Linked DNA regions of Homo sapiens. The protein of the gene in region 3 interacts with the protein of the main gene of each other region in a pairwise test. Each region holds a gene or a part of one and is shown on either strand. Other genes may lie near its edges.

Region 1 (7,183 bases), on a different chromosome or scaffold from region 3:
TGGTAGGCAGCCACCAGTGTCCTCTGTGGAACTGGGGGTGAAAGAGGGAGACACTAAGACCAAGAGGCTAAGAAATATTTCCGAAGGTTTTAACATGGAAACAGTAAGTCCAGGCAGCCTATGGCAGCAAGCCAGGTCCAGGCCATACCCCCGTGGCAGCATGAGTGTGTGGAACAGGGCCTGGGTGCCGCCCTCCCACCTGGGCAGGCACAGCCCCACAGCCTCTATGGCAGCAGGAATGGCAGGTGCTGACCCACAGCATGGCTTGCTGCATGTCACCACAGCCCTCCCTACTTTGCAGTTGGAGGGGCTGAGTTTCTAGTCCTTCACCACCATGCTCTGCTCCAACCCAGGCTAAGTCCAGTCAAGTCTCTGTGACAGAGAGCAATTGGAACCCCTCGGGGTCACGCAGGCAGCAAAACATCCTGAGGTCATAGTCACATATGACTTTGCTCATCGGGATCTGCTGTGGTGTCAGAAACAAGGCCAGAGCTGGAGCAAGGGGCTGCGCCTCTGGGTCTTCAAGGCCCCTGGAGAAGCGTGAGACATTTGGCCCCCAAGGAACAATTGTCTGGAGGACAACCAGGGCTGCTTCAACCAGGATGGAGCCTCTGGGGCCTCCCATGTGGATCAAGAGAAGGCTGCTCACACCCCCGGGGTAGGCAGACACTATGTTTGGAACAGAGAGCACACAGACAGGGATCCTTCTTTTTATACTTAACATTGCAAGGATAATGTAAGTACACCAAATGTTGGCCAGGCATGGTGGCTCATGCCTGAAATCCCAGCACTTTGGAGGCCAAGGCGGACGAATCACCTGAGGTCAGGAGTTCGAGACCAGCCTGGCCAACATGGTGAAACCCCGTGGCTACTGGAAATACAAAAATTAGCCAGGCTTGGTGGCACATGCCTGCAATCCCGCTACTGGGGAGGCTGAGGCAGGAGAATCATTTGAACCAGGGAGGCGGAGGTTGCAGTGAGTTGAGGTCGCACCACTGCACTCCACACTCCAGCCTGGGTGACAGAGTGAGACTCCGTCTCCGAAAAAAAAAAAAAAAAAAAGTACAAAAATTAGCCAGGCTTGGTAGCACGTGCCTGTAGTCCCAGCTACTGGTGAGGCTGAGGCAAGAGAATCACTTGAATCTGGGAGGCAGAGGTTGCAGTGAGCTGAGATCGCACCGCTGCACTCCAGCCTGGGTGACAGAGTGAGAAAAAAATGTTTGAAGTAGCAAAGGTCATCCACAATCCTCTTCCATCCCTCAGCTGTTTCATTTCTGTGTGTTATTATACTATACGTTTATTTTACTTGCTTTGGGATACTGAAATGTGGCCCTGGATGGACGTCTCCATGCCTGTAGGAAGGCGCTGGCCCTGGGGTGCTCACCCATGTGAATCTGCCCAGGGGACATTTTTGTTGTCACGACTAGAGAAGGGAAGTGCTCCTGGCACCCAGTGGGTGCCAAGGATACCGCTCAGCACCCTGCAGTGTACAGGACAGCCCCCACAGAGCAGATGGAGCCCAAGCATCAGCAGTGCCACCAAAGGTGACAAGCCCCTCCCTGGGGGACTCCAGTGCCAGTTTGCAGTCAGAGCTGGGCTGATTCCACCTTGGCCATGGACTAGCTCCTTTTTCTCCTGCCTCTGCTTTCTTACAGCAGGGACGATAACAGCTGCCTCCCAGGTCCTCATGAGGATGAGGCAGAATGATATATGAGGCTGGGCCTGGAATCCCAGCATTTTGGGAGGCCAGGGCGGGAGGAACTCTCAAGCCCAGGGGTTTGAGACCAGCCTGGGCAACAGAGCGAGACCCTATCTCTAAAAAAAAAGAAAAAATATATTTTTTTTTCTGAGACAGGGTCTCACTCTGTTGCCCAGGCTAAATTGCAGTGCGATCTTGGCTCACTGCAACCTCTGCCTCCCAGGTTCAAGTGATTCTCCTGCCTCAGCCTCCCGAGTAGCTGGGATTACAGGCATGTGCCACTGTGTCCAGCTAATATTTGTATTATTAGTAGAGATGGGGTTTCTCCATGTTGTCCAGGCTGGTCTCGAACTCCTGACCTCAGATGATCCCCCCACCTCAGCCTCCCAAAGTGCTGAGATTACAGGCGTGAGCCACCACGCCCGGCCAAAAAACCTTTTTTTAATTAAAATTAAGAAAAATATATGAATATATGAGAAGTGCTTATCCTAGCACCTGGTACATTCCAACTACCCCTTCAGAGTTCACCTTGTTTTCATTTGATAAGTTTGGGATTCGATCGCAGTTACTGGGTCCCCAGGTCTCCCTGGCTCTCACTTTTCCTGAAGAGAACACGGAACGTAACCTGCCGCCTGCTGCATGGCAGCCAGAGGCGCTGTCCCTCCCGGCCCACCTCAGACAGTCTTGTTTTCCTTCCAGCCCCTTCCCAGGTTCAGGTTCCAGCAACATCCAGTTTTAGGCAGCAGAGTTCTAAGACACGCCAGCTCCAGGGTGTCCTCAACCCATGTGGACATCTCCCTGGGTCCGTGGTTCAGAGGGCGCCACCTTCTCAGTCCCAGACTCTTCATAGCCCCAGGGTGCAGTGTTGTCTTCTAAGGCAGTGGGAGCAACGGGCACCCCAGGGAACCCACAGACTGCGTCGTGTCTCAGAAGTCGCTGGGTCAGCTCCTCCAGTGACTCCTGTGTGTCCGCAGGTCTCTAACTGGTTTGGCAACAAAAGAATCCGGTATAAAAAGAACATGGGGAAGTTTCAAGAAGAGGCTACCATTTACACGGGTAAAACGGCTGTGGATACCACGGAAGTTGGGGTCCCAGGGAACCACGCCAGCTGCCTGTCAACACCTAGCTCCGGTGAGTGAGGCTGGCCCAGGGACAGTCATCTGTACCCATGTGGACGGCCACTGAGCTGCATCTGGGGAGGCCACAGTGGGACCACATCTCCCTTCCCCCAGTGGTCAACTCTGTGTAACTCTTTCTTCTGTTTCAACTGTGAGAGTTCTGTTCCTCTTGGCCATGATCCCAACCAACAGATACCTGTGCTTTGGGGACAGAATGGCGATACTAATAAGAAAAGACATGAAAGGTCTGGGTGCGGTGGCTCACACCTGTAATCCCAGCATTTTGGGAGGCCAAGATGAGTGGATCACCTGAGGTCAGGAGTTTGAGACCAGCCTGGCCAACATGGTGAAACCCTGTCTCTACTGAAAATACAAAAAAAATTAGCCCGGCATGGGCTGGGTGCAGTGCCTCACACCTGTAATCCCAGGCCGAGGCGGGCGGATCACGAGGTCAGGAGATAGAGACCATCCTGGCTAACACAGTGAAACCCCATCTCCACTAAAAATACAATTCACAATAGCAAAGACTTGGAACCAACCCAAATGTCCAACAATGATAGACTGGATTAAGAAAATGTGGCACATATACACCATGGAATACTATGCAGCCATAAAAAATGATGAGTTCATGTCCTTTGTAGGGACATGGATGAAACTGGAAATCATCATTCTCAGTAAACTATCGCAAGAACAAAAAACCAAACACCGCATATTCTCACTCATAGGTGGGAATTGAACAATGAGAACACATGGACACAGGAAGGGGAATATCACACTCTGGGGACTGTTGTGGGGTGGGGGGAGGGGGGAGGGATAGCATTGGGAGATATACCTAATGCTAGATGACGAGTTAGTGGGTGCAGCACACCAGCATGGCACATGTATACATACGTAACAAACCTGCACATTGTGCACATGTACCCTAAAACTTAAAGTATAATAATAATAAAAAAAAAGAAAGAAAAAACAAATTATCTGGGCGTGGTGGTGGGCGCCTGTAGTCCCAGCTACTTGGGAGGCTGAGGCAGGAGAATGGTGTGAACCTGGGAGGCAGAGCTTGCAGTGAGCCAAGATCGTGCCACTGCACTCAAGCCTGGGTGACAGAGCGAGACTGTCTTAAAAAGAAAAAAAAAAGACAAGCCATGAGGGGACATGAGTAGTGTGGTGGGGAGGGCCCGCTGGCCTGCCTGGGTGGGGGCTGAGGAGCAGAGGCCGGATGCTGAGGAGGGGCAGGAGCCACATTCGAGGCCTCCTGCCGGCTGAGGGGCTGGGTGGGTTCCACCTGAGGAGGCGCCACGACTCTGCCCACCCCGGCTCCCATCTCTTCCAGGCTCCTCTGGACCCTTCCCGCTGCCCAGCGCTGGGGACGCCTTCCTCACCCTGCGGACTCTGGCCTCTCTCCAGCCTCCTCCTGGGGGAGGCTGCCTGCAGTCCCAGGTGAGTCTCAGGCACTGTCCCACAGCGCCCAGGTGGGTGGTAGGTTCTCAGAAAGGGTCGTCTTGTCAGCCACCCCTCGGCCTTGGGGCAGCTTCCCCAGAGGTCCCAGCAGCCACACAGGCCATGCTGCGCGGCCACCTCTGGGGCACAGCTCTGCAGGGCCCCACTCTGTAATGACTGTGCCCTCCCCCACCTCCACTTGTCACCACGGCAGCCGCTGGGAACAGTCAGTGGGGATGAACCCCAAGATGAGGGCTTTGGCTGTGGAGGGGAAGGGCACCTCCTAGAGGACTGTGGGAGGACATGGTGTCCTTCCCTCGAGAGGGAGGGGCAGGCAGCCAGCAGAGGAGGCCGGAGGAGAGATGGGGCCTTCCCTCGGGCTCAGACCTCAGTGCCGCAGCTTGGCTGGGAAGGCAGCGAGTGGGGACCGTCTTGAAGACACTGAGGAGGCCCAGGTGTCATGTGCCCAGCACAGGCACGAGGCTGTGTGTGTGGTGTGTGCCAGGGCACTGCAGAGCCGGGTGCCCCTCCCAACTCACCACTCTCTCCCAGGGGTTCAGAGAACGGATGCCTCCTGTGCTGTCTGTGGGGTCCCACCTGGTCCTGGGAAGCACACGTCCCACACTGTCCTGCTGTGGCAGCTGCCCCCCATCACCATGCAGCCCCCAGCCAGGGACACACGTGAGGGGCCTCACCTTGCCCTTTGCACCCCTGGGACCTGACTACGCGCCAGCAGCTGTGTGTCCACCCCAGTTCAGAGCAGAGTGCCCCCAGGTGGTGCACCCGTCTGAGCTGCTCCCACACTCACGGGCAGAGCAGTCCCAGCCACTTCCTTAACCTGTACCGTGCCCACCATAGTGGGGGTGGGTCCTGTGGACAAACGTCTTAGCGCCGTTGGACGTGATGCCGTCTCTGCACTGCAGACAGAGCCCCCACCCCTTATGACAAGTGGTTGCCTCCCACCCTCCTTGCTGCCCAGCCAGGCCAGTGTTGGGCCAGGTTTCAGAGCCCCTTTTTCCCACCGAGTCTCACCATGACGCTCCGGGCGTCATCATGGGCTCCAGGCCTGACCTTGCCTCCCTGCCCCTCGCCGGGCAGGAGCCCTTGTTGTACCCGATGCCAGTCAGTCCTTTGCCTAAGCCCCAGGGAAGCCACTAGAGGCCAGTTTTCCTGCCGGGGAAGCTCGTCCATGTCCCATGTCAGGTGGCAAGGCCAGCTGTGACCCAGGACCGACCCCTCCATCCCTTCCCTCCTCCACTGAGCTGGAGGTCATCTGTGGATCTTTTCCAAGCCTTCCCAGGGACCCCTGGAGGCTCCGCCTGCAGCACGTGGGCTGGGTAGTCACCAGTCTCACGGCCACCCACTCTGATGCTCAGTCTCTGTCGTTTCAGGCCCAGGGTAGCTGGCAGGGGGCCACCCCCCAACCTGCAACTGCCTCACCTGCTGGAGACCCTGGCAGCATCAACTCCAGTACATCTAATTAAGTTTGGGGGATAAGCAGGAAAGAGCGCTGCGTGAGCTGCCATGTATCGCCAGCCGTTGCTTTGTTACTGAACGTGCCGCCGACGACCTCAGAAAACCCAGATGGGTGGTGGTGCCCATGAGCCCCTGCTCCTCAGCCAGGCCCGTGGCGCCGGCTCATGTGTCTGCTGCGACTCGAGATGGCCTGAAACGCCACTCATTCTCCCACTTCAGTTCGTTTTTTTGACAGTAATTTTATGGTAACGCTATGAATTGAATTGTCTGTTCTAGGACTGGGCACAGATTTTCCCATTAAAATTTTTGACTTATTTTAATTCCGATGTCTGTTTGCCAGATTTGTTTTGGGTGGTAGTTGACACCGGTCACAGCTGCAGTGTCATGTGTGCTGTGATTTTGCCACTCACCTGCGCCGCTCAGGCACAGACTCCCAACACTGTCTTCTGTGGGACCGTATCATTCTGTTCTGATTTTAAAATGTCCTGGCTGGGAGCAGTGGCTCATGCCTGTAATCCCAGCACATTGAGAGGTCGAGGTAGGAGGATTGCTTGAGCCTAGGAGTTTGAGACCCGTCTGGGCAACATAGTGAGACCTCGTCTCTACAAAAAAATTCTGCTTTCAGATTTTTTTTTTTTTTGGGGGACAGATTCTCGCTCTGTCACCCATGCTGGAGTGCAGTGGTGTGATCTCGGCTCACCACAACCTCTGCCTCCCAGGTTCAAGCGATTCTTCCGCCTTAGCCTCCCAAGTAGCTGGGATTACAGGTGCCTGCCGCTATGCCCAGCTAATTTTTTGTATTTTTGGTAGAGATGGGGTTTCACAATGTTAGCCAGGCTGGTCTTGAACTCCTGAGCTCAAGTGATCTGCCCGCCTCAGCCTCCCAAAGTGCTGGGATTATAGGCTTGAGCCACCGTGCCCGACCGCCCCCCACCCCAAAATTTTTTTAATTAGCTGAGCATGGTGGCGCATGCCTGTAGTCCCAGCTACTCAACAGGCTGAGGAGGGAGAATCACCTGAGCTCGGGATGTTAAGGCTGCAGTGAGCTGAGATCACGCCACTGCACTCCAGCCTGGGTGACAGAGTGAGACCCTGTCTCAATTATATATATTTATTTTATGTTCGGAGCTCAATTTTACTGGGAATTAGTTTTGCACTTTTTTCGGGTTTTGCTCTATTTGCTCTTTTGCTGTTTTTTTGTTTTGTTTTGTTTTGTTTTGTTTTTGAGACAGAGTTTTGCTCTTGTCGCGCAGGCTGGAGTGCAATAGCGCCATCTCGGCTCATTGCAACCTCCACCTCCCAGGTTCAAGCGATTCTCCTGCCTCAGCCTCCTGAGTAGCTGAGATTACAGGCGTGCGCCACCATGCCCAGTTAATTTTTTTGTATTAGTAGAGACGGGGTTTCACCATGTTGGCCAGGCTAGTCTCGAACTCCTGACCTCAGGTGAACCACC
Region 2 (9,312 bases), on a different chromosome or scaffold from region 3:
ACATAGAGTTAAATTCATTTTACTGTCTTCTGACAAATCAAGAAGACAGCACTTATGAATGCAATTAGAAGCATGCACAAATCCAAACATGAGGCTTGAAATTCCTTAAATGTGAACAGCTCTTCACAGTTCATAATGAATATTCATGAACAGTATCTTGTTTTAGCCTCCCAGGGGCTCCATGTGATATTTACCAACATCTTCATTTTACAAATGATAAAGGTGAAGCACAGAGATGCTAAACATATTGCCTAAATCACTTCTCTGGATCCTGCTGTCTCCTTCCAAACTTAGAGGAAAAAAAAAAAAGGATTCCACTTACACCCAGGTTTACTACATAACCCAGGTTTTTCTGACTAATGACATATAATCAGGTATTATTTTGTCATATGTGAATGCTAAATGCCATTCCCTCTCCAAGCGCTATAGCAAGGGCACTTCACCTTTACATTATCATGACACTTTGTGAAATCTAAAAAACTAAGGAATCCTCACCCTCTAAAAAAAAAGGCACATATGTGAATGTTCATAGCAGCATTATTCATAATAGCCAAAGAGTGGTAAACCACCCAAATGTTCACCAACTGATGGATAAACAAATTGTGGTATATTCATATAATGGAGTATCATTTAATCATAAAAAGGAAAGATCCCACACGGATGAACCTTGAAAACATGCTAAATGAAATGAGTCACAAAATGACCACATATTGTATGATAATGAAATGTCCAGAATAGACATTTTTTATATGTAATGTGCAGAATGGGCAAACCATTAGAAATAGAAAGTAGATTAATGATTGTCTAGGGCTTTGGGTGGGTTGGGTGAAAATGGGGAGTGACTGTTTAATGGGCATGAGGTTTCTTGCTGGGGTGATGACAAATGTTCTAAAACTGTGGTGATGAATGCACAGCTGTGAACATACTTAAAACCACTGAATTATACACTTTAAATTCTTGAACTGTATGGTCTGTGAATTATATCTCAATAAAGATGTTATTTAAAAACAACTATTAAAAATCTTCATATGAGTAAAATTTCCCAGTTAATTTATGAGGGTTTGTTAAAGCCCTGAACCCATCTACTGGTACGAGGGAGTCGAAGACCCAAGCGTAGTAACTTCTGCTCTATAGAAACAAGAATCATCATCTATTTTTCTTTGTTGTATATGTAAGATTTATTTTGGCTGCCCCTACCCTACCACAACTACAGCAAACCTATGCCTCCTATTTTTTAGGATCACTATTTTGTCTATTAGATAACATAACCACAGTAGTTTTCAATATTGATTCATTAAAAAGAGTAAAATAGTATAGTTTCATAAATATAATTTTAAGAGCTACAAAAAAACTCTAGTAATTGAGCATCTATTATTTGCAAGGCATGGCCGGCATTCAAAAATGTAAAAGATTTCTGCCTTCAAGATGTCATAGGCAGGATAAGATCTATACAAAAATAACAATATACGAAAAAGAAGGTGAATCTTGCATTAAAAAGACCAGGGAAGATAAGCCAGGAATAATGATTAAAGGGAAGCTTCTTGGCAGAGGTGGACAATTATTTAATGCTGTGTTTCACCCTGAAGAATAAGTATCCTGAACGTACATAAAGGAGACACAGGGAATTCCAGATGAGAGCAGAAACAGATATGTTTCAGAATTGTTCCTAGGAACTATGAAGAAGGGCCTTCATCCCAAGCTAAGGGGGCCAGGCATGGTGGCTCACACCTGTAATCCCAACATTTTAGGAGGCCGAGGCACGAGGATTGCTTGAGGCCAGGAGTTCAAGACCATCGTGGACAATATAGCAAGACCTCCATCTCTACAAAAAAATAAAAAATTAGCCGGGGGGCAGTGCCATGTCCCTGTAGTCCCAGCTACTCAGGAGGCTAAGGCAGGAGGATTACTTGAGCCCAGAAGTATGAGGGTACAGTAAGCTGTGATCTCACCACTGCACTCCAGCCTGGGTGACAGAGAAAGATCCTGTCTCAAAAATATCAATCAAGCTAAGGATCCTGGACTTTATTTGGTAGGCTCTGAGAAGCCAAAGAAGGTTGCTGAGTAGGGCAATTACTGAATCAAAGATGTATGTTATGAAGATTGATTGTACAGTAATGTATGGGTGCATGTGGAAGAGAGGAAAAACTGCAAGCAGAGAAACAGTATTATTACAATAGTGTAAGACAAGGTTTCTAGAGTCTGGTTTAGGGAGTGGCATCTGTCATTCAGTAGCCATTTTTAAAAGATCAAGGCATGTCCCCCCAACCCCTGCCACTAAAAAAGGGGTGTTTTGATATGCTGCTCATTTAAAGTGCTGCCAATAAAGAAAATAGCTGTAGTTCATCATGGTACATATTTCCCTGGAGAAAACCCATTTACAACGTAGGTTTAGAAATTTCAAAATTACATTTTAACATGAAGTTCTGGCTACATTGGTTTGTGGGATTAGGAAGGGCCAAAGGCTCCTTTAGGCTCCCTTTGATCCATTAACTATGTTCTGTGAGTTTACAGTGAAAAATGATAAGAGTTGGACGATAAGCTTTCATGTGATCAAGTAAACCTGAACTCCAAGACTAAAAGACCTTGTTTGCAGTAGCAAATACTAAAGGGTCAGGGCCTGAATAGAATTTCCTTGAAATTGCTTTATTTCTATTTATGAACCTGAGGTGATTGGTGGTAGTGCATAACCTTGGATAGTAACCATTTCTGGGTTATAGGTTTACCATGTGGACAAGCACTGCCCACATAGTATAGGGGAGTTTACCTGCCTGGAATGGCCAAGGAGTTGTCTTTCCTGGGAGAGACAAAGAGCCCAGAGGCTACCTAAAGTCTTCCTCCCCACCCAAAGTGATGTTAGACACCGGAACTTGGAAAGAGAAGGTTGGCGTTCGAGTTACACGACACACACACACACACACACACACACACACACACACACACACCAAATAAAAGGTCTTACCCCAATCTCCAAAGTTTGCCAAGGCCAAGAACACTGTCTCTTAGCCCTTTTACTTCCAATCCCCGCCCACAGCCTGCAAGACCCTCCACTTCCCTTTCCCCTTCCGCTCTTGGCTTACTTGTCACGGATGATGGTCTGTAGCTCCCGTATCTGATCATTCATAGGCAGCAGCTTAAGCTGCGCCCCGATCTGCCGGGAGAGTTCGCAGTCCTCTAGGAAGGAGTTGCCAGCTGGTGCGTCATAGCTGCTACTGTCACCACTACCACTGTTGCCCTCTGAGTTGAGGCTGGAGCCGCCGCAGGCCCCAGAGTCCAGCTCGGCCGGCAGGCTAGAATGGGCGTACCCCGTGAGGAGAATCACCTTGGCCCTGGAGGCTCTGTTTCCCCCTGCGTGGTCCAGGATCAGATCGCCAGGTCGCAGCTGCTCGGGACTTGGGGTTGAGGCAGAGTTTACTTGCTGGTTGTGACAGGGCATGGAGTCCGGACACTGTAACTCCGTGGCCATACACCGGGCCCCGGGCTATCCCCGCTGCTACTGAACACTAAAGATAAAGAGGAACGGGTAGAAAGGACAGATGCTCACGTGCTCTCTCGGTTGCTCCCGCCTCCTCAGAACATCTAACCCTGGCTGTCCTTTCACCCCTAGGCCGCTGTTGGTTTCCTTTAGCACACTTTGGCTCACTCCCGCCCACACCAGACGTACTGCCTGCCTAGACACCCTATTGGCTGCACTCCCCGCCACTCTGCGGCGCCACTGCTTGTTAACCCTTTGAGTCACCCTTGCTACGTGGGTTCCCACAGGTAGCTAAGCCCCCGCAGCGAGGCCAAGGATGCCAGCTTGAAGGATCTTCCGGGGGCCCCTGGGGCTTCTGCATTCAGAACTTTGGGTGATTAGTAGAGCCAGGAAAAACTGGGGGTGGCAGGTGATGATACACAGTTACACACGTAAGGCCCATGTTTTCAGACTTTGTGACCTAGCAGAGAAATTATATCTCAGTAACCGCATCTTCAGTTAGCTTGTCTGCATAACAGAAGGAAGAAGTAAAAAAATGCCTAGCAGGCTGCTGAAGAGGCTGTCCTCTACTAGACTGTTCTAGAAACTGCAGCTTCCCAAGTATGCTTGACCGCCAAAGCTTTTCTTATCTTTATTGGTTGGGCCCCACAGTGTACACGTTGTCATGGGGACTCAGGCGGCATTTCAGATCCACTATCATTTTGAATCTTTAAAGTACTTGGAAAGACGCTTATTTTTAAGTGTATGGACTCACTATAACGGCCTGAGGTAAGAGTGTCTAGGGCAGTACTTTTCAAACATCAGTATGTACCACAATAATTGTAGAGCTTGTTAAAATGCAGGTTCTTACGGCTCATTTTTGAGATTGTGATTCTGTAGATCCGAGATGGGATACAAGAATCTTTTTTTTTTTTTAACTTTTAAGTTCAGGGATATATGTGCAGGTTTGTTACATAGGTTAACTTCTGTCATGGGGGCTTGTTGTAAAGATTATTTCATCGCCCAGGTATTAAGCCTAGTACCCACTAGTTGTCTTTCCTGATCCTCTCCCTTCTCACACCATGCACTCTGCAGTAGGCTCCAGTGTGTGTTGTTCCCCACTATGTGTCCATGTGTTCTCATCATTTAGCTCCCACTTATAAGTGAGAACATGCAGCATTTGGTTTTCTGTTCTTGTGTTAGTTTGCTAAGGATAATAGGCTCCAGCTCCATCCATGTCCCTGCAAAGGACATGATCTCATTATTTTTTATGGTTGCATAGTATTCCATGGTGTATATGTACCACATTTTCTTTATCCATTCTATCATTAATGGGTAGTTAGGTTGATTCCATGTCTTTGTTATTGTAAATAGTGCTGGAGTTAACATATGTGTGCATGTGTCTTTAATAAAACAATAATTTATGTTCCTTTGGGTATATACCCAGTAATGGGATTGCTGAGTTGAATGGTATTTCTGTCCTTCCTTTTTTTAACATGCCTATACAGATTTTTTTATAATTTTTTTTTTATTTCCATAGGTTATTGGGGAACAGGTGCTGTTTGGTTAGATGAGTAAGTTCTTTAGTGGTGATTTGAGAGATTTTGGTGCATCCATCACTCGAGCAGTATACACTGTACCCTATTTGTAGTCTTTTATCTCTCAAGCCCTTCCCACCCTTTTCCTCCAAGACCCCAAAGTTCATTGTATCATTCATATGCCTTTGTATCCATCATAGCTAAGCTCCCACTTATGAGTGAGAACATACAATGTTTGGTTTTCCATTCCTGAGTTACTTCACTTAGAATATTAGTCTCCAATCTCATCCAGGTCGCTGCAAAAGCCATTAATTCATTCCTTTTTATGGCTGAGTAGTATTCCATATATATATACATATATATATATACACATATATATATGTGTATATATATATATACATATATATGTATATATACACATATATATACACATATATATGTGTATATATATATATATCTCACAGCTTCTTTATCCACTCATTGATTGATGGACATTTGGGTTGGTTCCACGTTTTTGCAATTGCGAATTATGCTGCTATAAACATGCGTGTGCAACTATCTTTTCTGTATAATGACTTCTTTTCCTCTGGGTAGATACCCAGTAATGGGATTGCTGGATGAAATGGTAGTTCTACTTTTAGTTCTTTAAGGAATCTCCACACTGTTTCCATTAGTTGACATTCCTACCAGCAGTGTAGCAGTGTTCCCTGTTTGCCACATCCATGCCAACATCTACTATTTTTTAATTTCTTTGATTATGGCCATTCTTGCAAGAGTAAGGTGGTATTAAATTGTGGTTTTAATTTGCATCTCTCTGATAATTAGTGATGTTGAGCATTTTTTAATACATTTCTTGGCCATTTGTATATCTTCTTTTGAGAATTGTCTATTCATGTCCTTAGCCCACTTTTTGATGGGATTGTTTGTTTTTGTCTTTCTGATTTGAGTTCCTCGTACATCCTGGATATTAGTCCTTTGTCAGATGTATAGATTGTGAAGATTTTCTCCCACTGTATGGGTTGTCTGTTTACTCTGCTGACTGTTCCTTTTGCTGTGCAAAAGCTCTTTAGTTTAATTAAGTCCCAGCTATTTATCTTTGTTTTTATTGCATTTGCTTTTGTGTTCCTGGTCATGAAATCTTTGGCTAAGCCAATGTCTATAAGGGTTTTTCCAAAGTTATCTTCTAGAATTTTTATAGTTTCAGGTCTTAGATTTCAGTCCTTAATCCATCTTGAGTTGATTTTTGTATGAGGTGAGAGATGAGGATCCAGTTTCATTCTCCTACATGTGGTTAGCCAATTATTCCAGCACCATTAGTTGAAAAGGGTGTCCTCTCCCCACTTTATATTTTTGTTTGCTTTGTCGAAGATCAGTTGGCTGTATTTGGATTTATTTCTGATTTTGTGTTTTGTTCCATTGGTCTGTGGGTATATTTTAATACCAGTACCATGCTGTATTCGTAACTATTGCCTTATAGCATAGTTTGAAACCAGGTAATATGATGCCTCCAGATTTATTCTTTTTGGCTATATGGGCTATTTTGCTTCAATATGAATTTTAGAATTGTTTTTTCTAATTCTGTGAAGAATGATATTAGTATTTTGATGAGAATTGCATTGAATGTGTAGATTGCTTTTGGCATTATGATCCTGTTCACAATATTGATTCTACTCGTCCATGACATGGGTTATGTTTCCATTTGTTTGTGTCGTCTATGATTACTTTCAGAAGTGTTTTGAATTTTCCTTGTAGAGGTCTTTCACCTTCTTGTTTAGATATATTCCTAAGGATTTTTTTTTCACATAAAGTGTTTATTTTTTCCTTATTATACTTTAAGTTCTGGGGTATTTGTGCAAAACGTCCAGATTTGTTACATAGGTATACATGTGCCATGGAGGTTTTCTGCACCCATCAACCCATCGCCTACATTACGTAGTTTTCCTAATGCTATCCCTCCCCTAGCATCCCAACCCTGAAAGACCACAGCATGTGATGTTCCCCTCCGTGTATCTATGTGTTCTCATTGTTCAACTCACACTTATGAGTGAGAATATGAGGTGTTTGGTTTTCTGTTCTTGTGTTAGTTTGCTGAGAATGATGGTTCCCAGCTTCATCCATGTCCCTGCAAAAGACATGAACTCATCCTGTTTTTATAGCTGCATGGTAATCCATGGTATCTATGTGCCACATTTTCTTTATCCAGTCTAAAATTGATGGGCACTTGGGTTGGTTCCAAGTCTTTGCTATTGTGAATAGTGATACAATAAACACATGTGTGCCTGTGTCTTTATAGTAGAATGATTTATAATCCTTTGGGTATATACCCAGTAATGGAATTGCTGGGTCAAATGGTATTTCTGGTTCTAGATCCTTAAGGAATCCCCACACTATCTTCCACAATGGTTGAACTAATTTACACTCCGACCAACAGTGTAAAAGCGTTGCTATTTCTCCACATCCTCTCCAGCATCCGTTGTTTCCTGACTTTTTAATGATCACCATTCTAATTGGCGTGCGATGGTATGTTATTGTGGTTTCAATTTGAATTTCTCTAATGACCAGTGATGATGAGCTTTTTTTCATATGTTCGTTGGCTGCATAAATGTTTTCTTTGGAGAAGTGTCTGTTCATATCCTTCACCCACTTTTTGATGGGGCTGTTTGTTTTTTTCTTGTAAATTTATTTACGTTTTTATAGATTCTGGATATTAGCCCTTTGTCAGATGGGTAGATTGCAAAAATTTTCTCCCATTCTGTAGGTTGCCTTTTCACCCTTATGATAGTTTCTTTTGCTGTGCAGAAGCTCTGTTGTATAATTAGATCTCATTTGTCCATTTTGGCTTTTGCTGCCATTGCTTTTGCTGTTTTAGTCATGAAGTCTTTGACCATGCCTATGTCCTGAATGGTATTGCCTAGGTTTTCTTTTAGGGTTTTTATGATTTTAGGTCTTGTGTTTAAGTCTTTAATCCATCTTGAGTTACTTTTTGTATAAAGTGTTAGAAAGGGGTCCAGTTTCAGTTTTCTGCATATGGCTAGCCTGTTTTCCCAACACCATTTATTAAATAGGAAATCATTTTCCCATTGCTTGTTTTTGTCAGATTTGTCAAAAATCAGATGGTTGTAGATGTATGGTGTTATTTCTGAGGCCTCTGTTCTGTTCCATTGGACTGTATATCTGTTTTGGTACCAGTACCATGCTGTTTTGGCTACTGTAGCCTGGTAGTAGAGTTTGAAGTCAGGTAGCATGATGTCTCCAGTATTGTTCTTTTTGCTTAGGATTTTCTTGGCAATGTGGGCTCTTTTTTGGTTCCATATGAAATGTAAAGTAGATTTTCCAGTTCTGTGAAGAAAGTCAGTGGTAGCTTGATGGGAATAGCATTGAATCTATAAATTCATTTGGGCAGTATGGCCATTTTCACGATATTGGTTCTTCCTATCCATAAGCATGGAATGTTTTTCCATTTGTTCGTGTTCTCTCTTATTTCCTTGAGCAGTGGTTTCTAGTTCGCCTTGAAGAGGTCCTTCACACCCCTTGTAAGTTTTATTCCTAGGTATTTTATTCTCTTTGTAGCAATTGTGAATAGGAGTTCACTCATTATTTGGTTCTCTGTCTGTTATTGGTGTATAGGAATGCTAGTGATTGTTGCACAGTGATTTTGTATCCTGAGACTTTGCTGAAGTTGCTTATCAGCTTAAGGAGATTTTGGGCTGAGATAATGGGGTTTTCTAAATGTACAAACATGTCATCTGCAGACGGAGACAATTTGACTTCCTCTGTTCCTATTTGAATACCCTTTATTTCTTTCTCTTGCCTGATTGCCCTGGCCAGAACTTCCAATACTATGTTGAATAGGAGTGGTGAGAGAGGCCATCCTTGTCTTGTGCTGGTTTTCAAAGGGAATGCTTCCAGCATTTGCCCATTCAGTATGATATTGGTTGTGGGTTTGTCATAAATAGCTCTTATTATATTGACATACATTCCATCAATACCTAGTTTATTGAGAGTTTTTAGCATGAAGGGCTGTTGAATTTTATCAAAGGCCTTCCCTGCATCTGTTGAGATAATCATGTGGTTTTTGTCATTGGTTCTGTTTATCTGATGAGTTACATTTATTGATTTGCATATGTTGAACCAGCCTTGCATCCCAGGGATGAAGCCAACTTGATCGTGACAGACAAGCTTTTTGATGTGCTGCTGGATTTGGTTTGCTAGTATTTTATTGAGGATTTTCACCTTGATGTTCATCAGGGGTATTGGCCTGAAATTTTCTGTTTTTGTTGTGTCTCTGCCAGGTTGTGGTACCAGGATGATGCTGGCATCATA
Region 3 (8,708 bases):
AGCTCTTTCCCTCTCCAGATCCACTTGTTTCTTCTGCTCCTCTGAGAGCTTTGCCCTCAGAGACGCCACCTCCTCCTTGGTTTGAGGGTCTTCTTGGAATTGGAGGATCTCCTGGACCACCTCTTTGGTCTGGACCTGGGGTTTGGTGTCTTTCAGGGCCTGGATTTCCTTTTTCAGCTGGTAGATCTCTAAATCACACCTTTCGATCAGTCTGGTCTTGTCCACGATCTCCTCCCTGAGCCGCTGAAGCTCCTTCTCCATCTCAGGGTCAGTCTTGTACTTAATGACTTCCTTAGTCACCTCTTTGACTTCCACCTGGGGGCCTCGCCTCCTGAGGGCCTCCAGCTCACTCTGGTAGCTCCGGAGCTGCTCCTCGGCACCCCGGTACTTTCGCTCCTGCTCCACAAGCTCCAGGCGGAGGTTCGCCACTTCACTTTCCGCCTTGGGGTCTGGCCGCACGATCTCCCGCACCTTCTCCTGCACCACCACTTTGGCGTTCTCCTCCTCCAAGGCCCATATCTTTCGGAGCAGCTCCGTCTTCTCCCTCTGGCTAGCGCGAGCCTTGGCAGCCTCGTCCTCATATTGGCGGGTGAGATCGCTGACCTCCCTCTCGGTGGCCGCGTCCTTCTCCACCTTGAGCACCTCCTTGACGGTGATCTTGCCCTCGGCCATGGCCCGCTCCTTCTCTAGCCTCTTGAGCTTGTCCTGGAGGAAGCTCAGCTCCTCCTCCTGCTTCTCCCTGAGCTGGTCCTGGCGCTGGTGGTCCTCCTGCAGCTGCTGGTACTCTGCCTCCAGCTGGGGGTCATTCTGCAGTTTCACCACCTCTTTCTCTGTGACCTTCTCCTGCGCCCGGCTCTTCTCTTCAGCCAGGGCGGCCACACGCTGCTGCAGGAGGAGCACCTCTGCCTCCCGGGCGCCCTTCTGCCGCCTCAGTGCCTCCAGCTCCTCCCGCAGCTGCAAGACCTCATCCGCCTGGGCCCTGTCAGGCTCGATGCGCAGGACCTCCTTGACCACGTACTCCTGCCCCCCGTCTCTGGTCTCCTGCTCCAGGGCACGCAGCTGCAGCTGCAGTGCCTCCAGCTCCTCCTGCAGCAGCTGGTTCTTGTGCTGCTCCTCTGCCAGCGTCCGCTGCAGCTGCTGGAAGCTCTCCTCCAGCACGGGATCCGGCACCTTCTTGAGCACCTCCTTCCTCACCACCGATTCCTGAGGCCCCTGATTCCTCAAGGTCCAGATTTCTTCCTGGGTGCTCTTGACCTCGTTCTCCAGCTGCCGCCTCCGCTCAGTCTCCTCATCCAGTTCCTTCCTGATCTTCCACGCCTCCTCCACTCCAGAGTCCGGCCTATTCCTTTGCAGGGTCTCATGGGTCACTTCTACTTCCGGCTGCTGTGATGGAGAAGACAAGACAAGGTTAAAGCCAGGCTCTGGCAGCACATGTAGGGCCTGTCCCCACCTGGTCAGAGTGGCTGTCCTGTGGTCCCCAAGGGACTCCCTCAGTGCCAGTTCATGTTAGTTGTAGAGTTCTAGGGTTACTTTCAAAAAGGATCAAACAACTAGTTTGGGGTTTTTTTTAATCAGGTAAAACATTTTTGAGCTGTGGAAGAGTTTAAAATGAAACCACGGTCTCCCACCTCTGGTCCCCGTCCTAGGGCGTGTCTGTCAGCCTTGCAGATGCTATCTGTGCTCACACAAGAATATCTGTCTGTAGTATGTACCATGTGTTTATCTCTCCTGCACAAATGGTATTCCTGCTGCTCACTGCACTTACAGAGCTCATTCCAGCTCAGCACAGAGAGTGCTGCTTCAGGATTTACCAGCAGCATTGTTTCCGCTCTCTGGACAGACCGCAGTTTAGCCCATTGCTGATGAAGAGTGAACTGCTTCCAGTGTCTTGCTATTAAAAAACAATGCTGTCATCAACATCATGGACTTCAGAAAATAACATTCACTTTCTTTTGTTTCTTTCTTTTTTTCTGAGACAGAGTCTCGCTCTGTTGCCCAGGCTGGAGTGCAGTGGCACAGTCTCAGCTCCCTGCAACCTCCACCTCCTGGGTTCAAGCAATTCTCCTGCCTCAGTCTCCTGAGTAGCTGGGATTACAAGCATGCGCCACGACGCCCAGCTAATTTTTGTATTTTTAGTAGAGACGGAGTTTTACCATGTTGGCCAGGCTGGTCTCGAACTCCTGACCTCAGGTGATCCGCCTGCCTCGGCCTCCCAAAGTGCTGGGATTACAAGCGTGAGCCACCATGCCCAGCTGAAAATAGCATTCACTTTCAGCAGATGTTTACTGAGTTGAATAAGTTCTCATGTCAGTAGAAGCATTGGCTCGGGCCAGTCTTTGCATTGGCCCTGCCCAGAAACGTTAGCAAGGGGACACTTCCATCAATTCACAAACCATTTCTCTAAGACAGAGTCTGTATTTGTCACCTGTTAGAACAGCCTGAAGTAGAATTTCTTACTAAGATCAGTTACCTGTCTGAGGAGATTCAGAGCAAACTCCAGATTCTGCAGCCTCTGTCTGTTGATGGCATAAACTTCAGTGAACTTGGCGGCAAGTGCTGCTTCCTGCAGAGAAGAGGATTAGGAGAGCGGTCAACAAACAGGTGTCAACAGGGTAAGCAACAGAGAGCTAGACAGCGTGGACGTGGTTCTTGAGAAGTGTGGAATTTGGGGGTAGAGGCATAGCTCTTGCCCACTCCTGCCTGGAGTTAGACTGTAGCCTCACCGGTGGAGAGAAAAATGGATCTCGAGGCAGAAGATCCAGGCCAGGGTCTTGGCCACACTGACTTTGAGCAAGTCTTTCTGCCTCTTAGAGCACCAGTGTTCTCTCTTGTGTGTACAGGAGACTAATATCAGCCCTCCACTGTACTTACTGAGGTGAGCAAAACAGGAACTTCCCAGATCCATGGTTCTGACCCTGACACTTCTGTTCAGCTGCATTTTCAAAAATTTTTATTTCTTAAAGACAGAATCTCTTTCACTCAGACTGAAGTGCCATGGTGTGATTGTAGCTCACTGCAGCCTTGAACTCCTGGGCCCAAGTGATCCTCCCTCCTCAACCTCCCAAGTAGCTGGGACTACAGGTTTGCACCACCACGCCTGGCTAATATTTTTGTAGATATGGGGTCCTGCTTTGTTGCCCAGGCTGGTCTCCAACCCCTGGGCTCAAGCAGTTCTCCCACCTCGGCCTCCCAAAGTGCTAGGATTACAGGTGTGAGCCACTGCGCCCGGCCTTGCTGTCTTTCTAGGCATATTGATGTCACTGCCCTAGAACAAGTTCCTCATCTCTTACCAAACCTGTTTGCATGCAGGAGGGCTCTCAGTGGCTTCCCTGTTGTGTGTGCATCTCTGAGGCCAGCGTGTGACACCATGCTCCCTGGGGAGCAGGGCAGCTTGGCCTCCACCTCAGTCCCGAGGCCGCCTGGCCCATGGAACTCACCTCTTCCTTCACTTTGGTGGCAGGAGATTGGAGCCTGGCTCTCTTGCTCACGTGGCTTCTCCTTCCATTCTCCAAGTCGAGAAGAGACCTTAGTTTTTCTGCTTCTAACTCATAGTCCTGCATGAGGGAGAGACATGGCAGAGGGGAGATTAAAACAGCTGAGAAGAGACAGACATGTTCCTGTACCCCTTCAGGCTGACCCAGACCTGCCCTGTGCCATGTGCTGGTTTTATAATCTGCGTGGGTCTTCCTCACAGCTGCACCCTGCAGTGATTTCCAGGAGGTTTTGAGAATTACTGATATCTCAGCAGTACATAGCTCCATCACTCAGTAACATATGAGACAAGAAGTGCCCCCTGAATTCCCCTCCCAGCCTTTCTACATGCCTAGAGATTTTCACATTCTGCTGCTGCTTTTAACATCGTACCATAACCCTGTCTCACCTTGCCACCACCTCTTCTCATGTTTACCAGCTTGCTGACTTTATAATCCATCAGGTGGATGTGTGCTGATTCACGCAGCTTTCCCCTTCCACTGGACACCAGTCCTTTCCAGCGTACTAGTTTTGCTATTGTAAATAGTGCTGTTGCAACAATGTTGTTTATCCTGCATTTTTTTTTTTGTACTTTTTCCTTAAGGATAAATTCCCCCAAAGTGTTTACTGCTTCAGAGTATAAAACCCTTTTACAGCATTCCATGTCTAGTACCATGCTGTTTTCCCAAAAGCCTGTGCCAGTTTGCACAGCAGCCGGCAGTGCCTCGGATGGCCAGCTCCACCCCCATGTGCCAGGGCCGGTGCTTGCTGCTTCTCTGACCAGGGCACGGTGGAATAAGACCCCTGCTGTTTGTGCTTTGGGCGGAAGTTTCCCGGCTCACCTTTACAGCTTGCTGGTACTGCTGGGAATTGGCACAGATCTTCTGTACTTCCTGCTCCCTACTTGCTATCTCATCTAGCAGGTTCTGTAAGACAGAGTTTAAAAATCAAAACTAACCAGAAAAAAAATTTAAAAAAGCAACCATGGATGCAGTAGCTGGAAATCTCAGAATCTGAATTTATTCTTCTCTAGCACAAAGTATGATGAATGGCTCCCTTGTATACATTTTTATTCATTGCAAAAGGCAGTTTTTTTGTTGTTGTTGTTTTTTTTTTTTTTTTTTTTTTTTTTTTTTTTTGAGACAGTCTCACTGCATCGCCCAGGCTGGAGTACAGTGGCGCGATCTCAGCTCACTGCAGCCTTAGCCTCCTGGGTTCAAGCAATTCTCCTGCCTCAGCCTCCCAAGTAGCTGGGACTACAGGCTCCTGCCACCATACCCAGCTAATTTTTTTTTGTATTTTTAGTAGAGATTTGGTTTCATTATGTTGGCCAGGCTGGTCTTGAACTCCTGAACTTGTGATCCTCCTGCCTCAGCCTCCCAAAATGCCGGGATTACAGGTGTGAGCCACCGCGCCCAGCCACAAAAGGCAGTTCTAAGGCTCTGTGAAGAAGGGCCAAGATCATTATCTCTGCTAGGAAACAAATGTTTACTGATGATTTGGACCACCAGACACTGTTCTGCTGTCTGACTTAGATTATCTCATTTAATCTTCAAACGATGCCAGGAGGTAAGCATCGTGACCTCCAGCTTATGAGTGAGGAAAGCTTCTGAGGTGGGGATGTGGCTGATGGGGTGGACCCGGGATTTGCATCTCAGCCATTGGCTTCCCGTGTTCCTCCCTCACCCCAAGGCACTGCGTTGGGCATGGGGGAGGCAGGAGTCCCAACTTTGAAAATGGGATTTCCCCCACAAAGGCGGCTCCTCATTCTGTAGCTGTTCACTCACATAGCCAACCCACGCCAAGTGTCCATTCTGCACCAGGCCCTGTGCGGGGCACTGAGCTGGGAGAGGTGAGCGACACACTCGGTTCTTGTTCTCAGAGGGTTGGGTGTTGGGAGCTTGAGCTGAGGCCCAGGGAGGACACAGCTGTGGCAGGCCTCTGCCCTGCTCCACCTCCCAAAGGCTTGGCTCCCCAGAAAGGGGCTTGTTGACCTCTGACCCTCCCTTGCCAGTGTGTGCCTGGGGCTGCGGAAACGGCCATCTCACCTTCTGGTTCTTCAGCTTGGTCTCCATCTGGCTGAGGCTGTCTGTCTCCTGGGGCTCGTAACTGGGGATGCTGACTAGGAACTGCAGCACGTGGTCATGGCCGCGGTGGAAGTGCTCGTAGGCTGCCTTGGCGCTCTGTAGGCTCTGCGCCCTGTCAAGGCAAAGCGTTCAGGCCTCAGCCACAGCAAACAGATGCCTCACCGAGCCCTCATTTTTTTTTTTAAAGTGGGAAACAACCAAATGTAACAACCAGAAATACCCCAAGTATCTCCCACACAGGGTGGGTGGTCATTAGGGAACGTCAGGTTGGACTGTGGAGAACCAGGTGGGTCCATATACATTGACTTGCAGAGATGCCCATTGTGGATTACAGGACCCAGGTAAGCATGACTCAAAAGAGAGACCACAGGGCCGTCAGAGAATCTGACGAACTCACCAAAAAGAAAAACAGCAAAATCTGTGGGACACGGCTAAAGCATTGCTTAGAGGGAATTAGATCGCATTCTCAGAAAACAAAAATGGCCACCACCCACCGCACCCTCACCTGCGTTCCACCTGCTGGCGCAGGTTGTTGAAACGCTGGCCCAGCTTGTGCACCTCGGCCTCCTGGCGCTCCAGGTCCGGACAGTGCTCCTGGAAGCGGCTGGCCAGTGTGCTCGAGCACTGCTTGGCCGCCTGCAAGTTCTGCTCCACCTCACCCAGGAGGGACTTCTGGGCCTGTAACTCACAGGCCATGGCCTGGCGGGGCAGAGGAGGAGACGGCGGTGCTACGGCCAGAGCTCCCAGAGCCAGGCGATGACACCCACTGAAGCCCCTGGGCCACTGACTGTAGGAGGGTGGGCAAGGCCACAGGTAGGAAGGACCGGAGCCTTGCTCTGTACATCCCAAACCTGGGTCACTTCTGCCATCTTCTGTTTTTTAACAATGAACAAAGCCCTGAAAAGCTAACTTCTAAAAACCCTGCAGCAGGCAGCTCGTGCCCTGCGCGAGAACAGCCTGCCACTGTCTGGTCATGAGGCTGTGGCAAAAGCAAGTCGTGAGATGGGAGTGTGAATAAGGGGCCTCAGGTCACAGACTTGAATGTTTCCTGTGCTCAGGCAGTGTGGGAAGGGGGCCCGTGGCAACTGCGAGGTAAGCAGGCCGAGAAGGCAGCTGCTCCTCTGCCCACTGACTTGCCCTCTGAGCTGCAGCCCAGGATGCCAGCTCTGCTCAGCAAGAGATACTGGGAACATGGATTGTTATGTGCTTTATGCTTTTTTTTTTTTTTTTTTTTTTTTAAGAGATAGGGTCTTGCAACGTTGTCCAGGCGGCTGGACTTAAACTCCAAGGCTCAAGCAATCCTGCCCCAGCCTCCTGAATGGCTGGTGTTACAGGCATGTGCCACTACACTGGCTATTGCAGATATTTGATCTTAAAATGCTGGCACCCGAAATCCCGTAAGTCACACAGATCCCGTGAATAGCTTGGATTTGTGCTGTGGGCCTCCATTTGCAGTTCCCAATTTGGGCATTCCAAACCTGGGGAGACTGGATGCTGGTGTCCTCATCTATCCAGACGGGCGGGTGGATGTGCCAGATGCTCTCACCTGCTCAGAGAAGGACTCCCAGGACTTGGGCCCTAGACTCACCGCCAGCTCCTGCCCCTTGCTGTCCAGGACACGGCTGCTCTCAGGCACTGTGTCATCCTGATTCAGATGGTTCTCGTGTGTGGCCAGCAACTCCCAGCTCTGCTGCAGGCTCTTCTCCAGGCGGTTGGCCACATCAACCCTGAGAGCACCAATCAGGCGTCGGGGGATGCCCACCTGGCCCCCTGACCCCACCCCAACCTCCATGCTGCCTGTCTGCCACCCACTTCTCCTGGGCCAAGTCCAGCAGCTGCAGGAGGTGCTCGTATTTCCGGTTGGTGTCCTCCACCCGGGTCCTCAGCAGGGGTGTGGTGCCACTGCCTGGGAGGGCCTGGATGAAGGCTTCGCCCTCAGCCGTGCTCCGCGTCTTCTCAGGTTCAATCCGCAGTAGCTCGTTGGTGATGTTCTGTGGGAACCAGGGCCCCTCAGTTTTGGACACAGCCAGGCAGCCCCTTCCCCTGAGGATGTGCCCAGGGTGAGCACAGATTCCCACATCAGGCACAGTGGAAGCAGCTGGAGAGGCCTGGCACATTCTGGGGCTCTGACCCGGCATCTGGACCCCAGCCTGAGGGCTGTATTTTTCACGAGCATCCCAGGGAACCGCTGAGGTGGAATGGACTAGTGACACCAGAAGCACCCAGGCAGCTGCCGGGCCTGTGCTGTCCTCAGCACTGCACGCGGACGCTTCTGTTTAATCTTTGCGGCAACCCCGGGAGGTGAGTACTACGACTCCACCCAGTCACGGGTGGGGGTGTGACGACTCCCAGCAGCTTAGGAAGGGACTTGTGGGGTCAGGCTACACCCGAGACCGGCATCCTCTCGCCCTGACTTGGCTCTCACTCTGAGGCCCCATCAGGGGCTATGGCACTTCTCCAATCCCAGATCCTCTTCTGTAAAATTGGAGTGCTACTCACTGCCTCAGAGGGCTGCCTTGAGGATGTGGGAGACTTTGTATAGGAAAGGAGGTGGGGGGAGGTGGCCCCTCCACGTCCCCCCTGGCATCAGCTCACCCTGTCCTCGCCACTGCCCTGTGAGCAGGGCCAACCCATCCTACTGAAGACACTGAGGCCTGGAGTTTATAAATACAAACGCTAACGTGTTTGCAGTCAAGCCAGCCGGTGACCCAGTCCTGCGGAATTCCACAGCCCATGTGCCATGCCAGGCGTCAGATCGACAAGCCGTGCAGGAACAATGCAAGTCCTGCCAGCTCTTTCTCCTGGGGAGGTAATGACAGCAGCCCTGCCACCTCCATGACTTGGGACCCTTTTACATGCAGCAGGCTGTCCCTGACAGACAGCTGCAGTGAATATCCCAAGACTCCATGGGGAAAAGACCTCAAATAGGGGCCCCAGGGGGCCAGTGCAGGGCTCCCCCGGCCCCACCTGTGCTCCTGACCCGCAGGTACCTTGAGGTCCTTGGCCCGCTCGGCACTGTCCTGCACAGCCCGGCCTTGCTCCAGTGGTGGCCGCAGGATCCCTGTGATGGCCTTCTCCTGCCGGTCCAGGTCGCTGGCCACCTTGTCCAAGCCAGCCAGCAGCTGCCGCCCCTGTAGGTCAGAGGCATCT

Evidence for each region. The genes of interacting proteins can lie anywhere in the genome.
Region 1: the proteins of PPL (region 3) and PBX4 interact in binary tests that used the Homo sapiens proteins (3 or more experiments, as listed by UniProt).
Region 2: the proteins of PPL (region 3) and UPRT interact in binary tests that used the Homo sapiens proteins (3 or more experiments, as listed by UniProt).

The regions. Positions count from the first base shown.
Region 1 is NC_000019.10:19,560,580-19,567,762, reverse strand, and holds the end of PBX4 (pre-B-cell leukemia transcription factor 4), read left to right. Parts: intron 1-2,673; coding exon 2,674-2,830; intron 2,831-4,147; coding exon 4,148-4,254; intron 4,255-5,645; coding exon 5,646-5,738; 3' UTR 5,739-6,050; downstream 6,051-7,183.
Region 2 is NC_000023.11:75,268,406-75,277,717, reverse strand, and holds the start of UPRT (uracil phosphoribosyltransferase homolog), read right to left. Parts: upstream 3,634-9,312; 5' UTR 3,464-3,633; coding exon 3,078-3,463; intron 3,056-3,077; exon of another isoform or gene 2,960-3,055; intron 1-2,959.
Region 3 is NC_000016.10:4,884,665-4,893,372, forward strand, and holds part of PPL (periplakin), read right to left. Parts: intron 8,707-8,708; coding exon 8,549-8,706; intron 7,550-8,548; coding exon 7,371-7,549; intron 7,286-7,370; coding exon 7,147-7,285; intron 6,258-7,146; coding exon 6,064-6,257; intron 5,671-6,063; coding exon 5,520-5,670; intron 4,398-5,519; coding exon 4,314-4,397; intron 3,555-4,313; coding exon 3,438-3,554; intron 2,564-3,437; coding exon 2,471-2,563; intron 1,384-2,470; coding exon 1-1,383. UniProt on the Homo sapiens protein: Component of the cornified envelope of keratinocytes. May link the cornified envelope to desmosomes and intermediate filaments. May act as a localization signal in PKB/AKT-mediated signaling.